Linked DNA regions of Homo sapiens: region 2 is linked to region 1. Evidence: fine-mapped expression QTL. Tissue or cell type: lymphoblastoid cells. Region 1 holds a variant in brackets; the other region holds the start of a gene. All regions are shown on one strand. Distances are from middle to middle.

Region 1 (2,762 bases):
TCTCACTACGTTACCCAGTCTGGCCTTGAACTCCTGGGCCCAAAGGATCCACCTGCCTCAGCCTCCCGAGTAGCTAGGACTATAGGTGTGTGCCACCATACCCAGTTGCATGTCAGCGTCTTTTGCTCTTAGAGAATGTTCAGGAAATGTTTCTTGAATGAATGATTGGCACTTGCTTTAATTGCTTTTTGGTGGCCTGACAGTAGACTTCCCAATGGATCTGGTTTGGTAATGGCCTAGAACTCTTAGAATTATTGCAGACTGTTTGAAGATGGGGATGAGGGGTTGGGACTAGGAGCGTAACTCCAACTTCCAAAACCTCATTAGATTTAAATAATAAATAAAGGTTTATTTTTCTACATCTACTTGGCTCTTATATGAGGGTAAATTTCTGATATCCCTTGCTGTAAAAATCTTTGTTCTAAATAATTATAAAACCTTTTCTGAATGTTTCCTTTTGTTTGTTTGTTTGTTTGTTTTATAACTTGATTGCCTTTTGGAAGCTTGGGAGCTTCATTATTGAACTTATTGGCAATAGAATGTTCCGACGTGGAAGAAGCTGTGACTTTCTCTGACTCAGTGAAATACCCCTTAAGTCCATTTCATCAGCCATGGGTCTCCTTTCTTCCTCCCTACTTGTGTTCAGTTTTAATAAACTGAGTGCATCTGGAGTTTTTTAAGTTGTTGACTATCTTCTTGGCTTTTGTGGTTCTAATTCCACTTCCTGTCAGCCCTGGGATTTTGTGTGCTTCATTAACCTCATCCCATCAGATATGATTTTGTATACGTGTGTATATTTGTATGAGTCTCTGCCTCCCACTGACTCCTAACTTCCCCTGGGGTTTAAGTCACAAGGAATAAGCTAGTTGTTTTTTTTTTTTTCCATTTATTTTAGAGTAAACAGGAATTGAAAGCTTCCCAGAAGATTTTGGCTCAAACAGAGCATTGGTGCTTTTAGGGGAAACCAACAGACCAGACATGGGGTTCGCTATATTCTTTTGGTGGTTGTTCCTGTCCTTCCATCTTATGGATCTCTGCCAGGGGCATTCCCTTACTATCTCAGTGTTTGTATCCTATGATTTCTTTCCCATCCTACCACCTGTAATGTTCAACTATGTTTCCAGGTATCTTCAATATCCCATCCTATTTATTTATACATTTAATTTTTCTTCAGTTCCTGCTGTGGGCAAGTCATAGGTTAGCCTTTCGGCAGTGTATTACCATCAAGTTTGTTCCTCTCAAACCAAATTTTATGTAGGATGAGATACAGATATAGATATATATATACCTCCATTGCACTATTAGTGTTTAAATGTAGACTTGAGAACCTATACAAACTACCCGAAACTTTGTCATTTAATGCTTTTTCCTAGATTTGCACATCTGGCAAGGACCTTAGAGAATAATTAGTTCAGATATAGAAATTGAAACCCTGAGAAATGAACTCTATGTTCCAGGTTCTAGAGTTAGTGAGT[G/A]AAATAACTCAGGTCAAAATGACTCAGCTTGTATCTATGGGGCTTCAGAAGATGGGTTTTGGCAATCAGATAATCTTGATCATAAGACTTTTGATTTATAGAATTTTTTATGCCTCCCTCAATAAGACAGATTTTTTACAATCTAATTTTTACTGCCTTCCAAGATCGTGAAAATATGGTACCATGTGAAATAATATGCTTAAACAGCAATCCTTTAAATATGCTTAGGAAATTGGCATTGTGAGATACAACTGGCTATGAGAATAGCTTTTGGATCAGTTGAAGAAAAACAGCCAAAAACAACAGGATGTTCGCTGCTCTTTAAAGATGTTGCTGCTGACAGTGGGTTTATCTCTGTGTATTAGCATGGCTGAAGTCATGGGTTGTGACCCAGGCCTGGGATCATGGGGACAAGTTGTGGAGCCACTTGTAGAACTGATCAGCCTGGACTTGTTCTGATCAGAGCCCAGTGACGTGTTTGCTCCGCACCAGCCATGCCCAGTACACCTCTGTGTTGACGATACCTGGTTTGGTTTTCTGTTGCTGCCATTCTTGACCATTTCACAGGGTAACCTGAGGTTCTTATAGGGAGGATGTCCATAAATAATTGTTGGAGGAATGAAAGCAGGCAGTGTACATTCTCCAACAATGTAAACTACTTGGCCACCCACAGAAAAATAATGAGAGTCATCAATCTCTTCACTTTTTGAGATAATCTCCTTTTTTGGTTTATCATATGCTCCTGTTTAGATGGGAAAGGAAGTTTACTACAGAAGAAACTTATGTAGGAAGTATCTACTGTTTATCAAGCAAACATTGGTTATTTCCTTTAATTTGGTTTCACTGGTTATTTCTTTTTAGTCTTCGACAATTTTGGTTGGTATTATCTGTGTTTTATAGACATGGAAAAAAGATTCAGAAAGGTTAAATAAGTTGTCCTAGGTCATGCAGCTAATAAATGGCAAAGCCAAATTTGGGAGCCAGTTCTCTCTGGCTCTTTCTCCACCCACATAAAGACATGTCCTTATGAGTCCGGCCACTTTTGGCATGCCCCATATCCTGGATTCTCCCTCTGCTCTCCCGTAACTAGATACTCAGGAAAAATGATATCATCCTTTCTAGCAGATCAGGCCTGAAAAGGACACTCCTTTTGCTCTAGTTAAGCATACCCAGTCCTAAATACTCCTTTCAAATCTACCTTTACATCTGGTAACCAGATAGCATATTGATTTCTTGGACTAGTTAACCAATTGGCTGTGGGCATTTTCTTTTCATTTTCTTGTGGGT
Region 2 (2,762 bases), 63 kb before region 1:
TTTATTTTCTCACTCTCTCTCAAGAGGAGACTCCTCCGGGGTTTAGAAAAGCTGCATGGATGCACCTCTCCACTTTTCTGCACAAGTATGCCTTCCATTTCACAGAAGTGTTATCTGTTAGAAATCCCAACAGATAGCTGATGAGGACAGAGCCTGAGCACTTCTGAATTGCTCTGCCAATTTCTCAACCTAATTTCCCTAAAGCTTAAGGGCCTCTTAGAGTGTATACAACATCTATTTCCAAATTTTGTCCTGGCCCTGGCCCAGCCCAGCCAAGCCCAGCCCAGCATAGGTGTGCTGTTAAAACTTAATCAGGAGAAAGGGATTCTTATCCTGGCCCTACCACTTAGTAGCTGTGTGACCCTGGGTAAGTCATTTACACTTTTCAGTCTCGGTTTCCTCATCTGCAAAATGGAGATAGAAATATCAACCCGAAGGGCTATTGTAAGAATTATATGACAAAAAGTGAAGGCTCTTTGTACAGTGCTAGGCTCATAGTGGCTGCTCATTCGCTCATCCATTCCTTCGTTCCTTGAATTCACCAAGCCTTCTCCATCTTCCTAGCTCCCCCTTGTCATCGCCTCTCGAAACCTTTTCCCCCCAAAAGGTTGCCTTCCAGTTATCTTCCTTCCATCCCACCTCCATTTTTCCAGACTCTCCGGATCCTCTCAATCAGAAGCAACACAGACACCTACATCCCTCTTCTCCCCCATATTCTCCTTACCTGGCGACCGGGCCCCCAGCACAGCAGTGGCAGCAGCAGCCGCTGCCGCAAACAAGCTCCCCCAGGACAGCTCCAGCCCGGAGTCCACCTGAGCCATTTGTCCCCGCCCCCTCCCTCAGCCCTGCTCCAGGATTGGGCCGTTTCCGTCAGTACTCTCTCTGATTGGCTGTCCCGGTTTCGCCCGAGCAGGAGATGGGGAGTGAACCCCTTTACTGCCAATCAGCGGTTGCCGCTGCCTAAGCCTCTCCCCAGGTACGCCGCTCACGCCGTAAGCCCTCCTGTTGGACCTAGCGGAACTCCGGGTTTGGAGTCAACCTCTTAGGGGCGGAGAAAAAAACAGCGGAAAAAAAAAAAAAAAAGAAGACTCCCTTCAGCTGAGGGCAGGGCTCTGCGCCCGCGCTGCGCGGCGGTGACGACATTCGCCCGCGTCCGCAGCTGAGCGTTATGAGCGCCTGCGCAGTGGCTCCGAGCGGGCGGTTGCTTGTTGGTTGTTGTAGTAACCGGGGAAGCAGCCGTCGGCGGCTGCCCTGAGCCTTCCTGGGGAAGGAGGAGGGAGGTAGGCGCAGAGCGCGGTCCACGCCTGCTCGCCCCGAACCATGGGAAGATGAGACAGGTAAACGCCTGCGCCCGCGCGCTTCCCTACCCTAGGGAGGAGCATTCCCGGGTCCGGGCTGGCGCCTGCAGCAGGACTTCCCGCTCAGAGCCCGGGAGTAGCTGTTGGCTTCCGGGCGCGCCGCGTTGAATCGCGGCTGCGGGGTCGTCCCGTCCTTCCCGGGGGGAGCATCTGCGGACCTACGTGGGATTGGGGTGAGCTGGGGGTGGGGCTGAGAAGCAGATTCCTTTCGGGAGAGGAGTCTCCTTAGGTGAGTATCTCTACTCTTCTTCCGATAGACCTGTTTCTCCCCGCTCTGCAGGCAGCCTAGGAGAGGTTGGCATCCCTTCCCGTTTGGAGGTTTTGTTTGTTTAAACTTAAAGGGCTTCCCAGCATTTTGGGAAAGATCAAGAAATCCCGTTGAGAATCCCCTGAAGAAAGCCATTGAAGTTGTTAGACATTGCCTATTGCGCCGAAGATCTTTGATCATTATCGGGGTCTGTTTTTTTTTTGTCTTATTTACAGTCTCATCGTATTTATGAATGCATGGAAAAGTTAAGAAGGATTGACAGCAAGTAATTATCGCTGAGTAATTTGGGATTATGGTCATTTAAACATGTTTCTTTTATTTGTAGTTCCTATTTCTTCTTCTGACACACACAACGAACATGTACTTTTTTACTTTAGAAAAAATATTTTAAGTTAGAAATGCAGTGTTGGAAATTTCCTAATTTCATCGTCTATTTGAGAGTCGTACCAAACTTTGTGATTTTTAGGAAGAATAATTTTTAAGAGTGGAAGGGCATTCCTCCCCTCCCCCACCTATTTATATGGACCTTTGATTCAAGAGAATATATTCATCTTTCGGTTCATTGTTGAATTTATTTTACTGGAAACATGATGGCATCTTGTCAGCGTGCTTGTCATAGAGTCTAAATAAATGTTGGCAGGGGTTTTTTGTTGTTTTTTTTTTTTTGAGACGGAGTTCACTCTTGTTGCCCAGGCTGGAGTGCAATGGCGCGATCTTGGCTCACCGCAACCTCCGCCTCCCGGGTTCAAGCGATTCTCCTCCCTCAGCCTCCCGAGTAGCTGGGATTACAGGCATGAGCCAGCACACCCGGCTAATTTTTTGTATTTTTTTTTTTTTTTTTTAGTAAAGACGGGGTTTCTCCATGTTAGTCAGGCTGGTCTCGAACTCCCGACCTCAGGTGATCCGCCCGCCTTGGCCTCCCAAAGTACTGGGATTACAGGCGTGAGCCACCCTGCCCGGCCTGCAAGGGTCTTAAACCTTGAGTTTTTATTTATTTATTTTTAACCCAGGCCAGGTTTGTCTAGCAAGGAATATATGTTTTAGGGAATCAGTCACCTGCCTCAAACTGAGTGAAAGTGAGGAGTCTATCCTTTTGGTGCATATTCGATTTAGTAAATAATGAGAAACTCAAACTT

What was found. PIP is the estimated chance that this variant, and not a neighbour inherited with it, causes the effect.
Region 2: it holds the start of TTLL5, and the variant in region 1 is the best candidate, but not a certain one, in a credible set for the expression of TTLL5 in lymphoblastoid cells (GTEx, PIP 0.64).

Annotation. Positions count from the first base shown.
Region 1 is chr14:75,723,148-75,725,909 of GRCh38, forward strand. All of the region lies in intron 12 of TTLL5 (tubulin tyrosine ligase like 5), which reads left to right. Among named protein-coding and RNA genes, the nearest start is that of TTLL5, 63 kb to the left of the region's middle. The variant G/A (reference allele first, on the strand shown) is at 1,476.
Region 2 is chr14:75,660,051-75,662,812 of GRCh38, forward strand. TTLL5 (tubulin tyrosine ligase like 5) reads left to right here and starts at 1,196. Exons shown (of 32, transcript NM_015072.5): 1 at 1,196-1,337. ERG28 (ergosterol biosynthesis 28 homolog) reads right to left here and starts at 826. Exons shown (of 5, transcript NM_007176.4): 1 at 725-826. RefSeq lists a silencer at 888-937 and an enhancer at 1,048-1,267.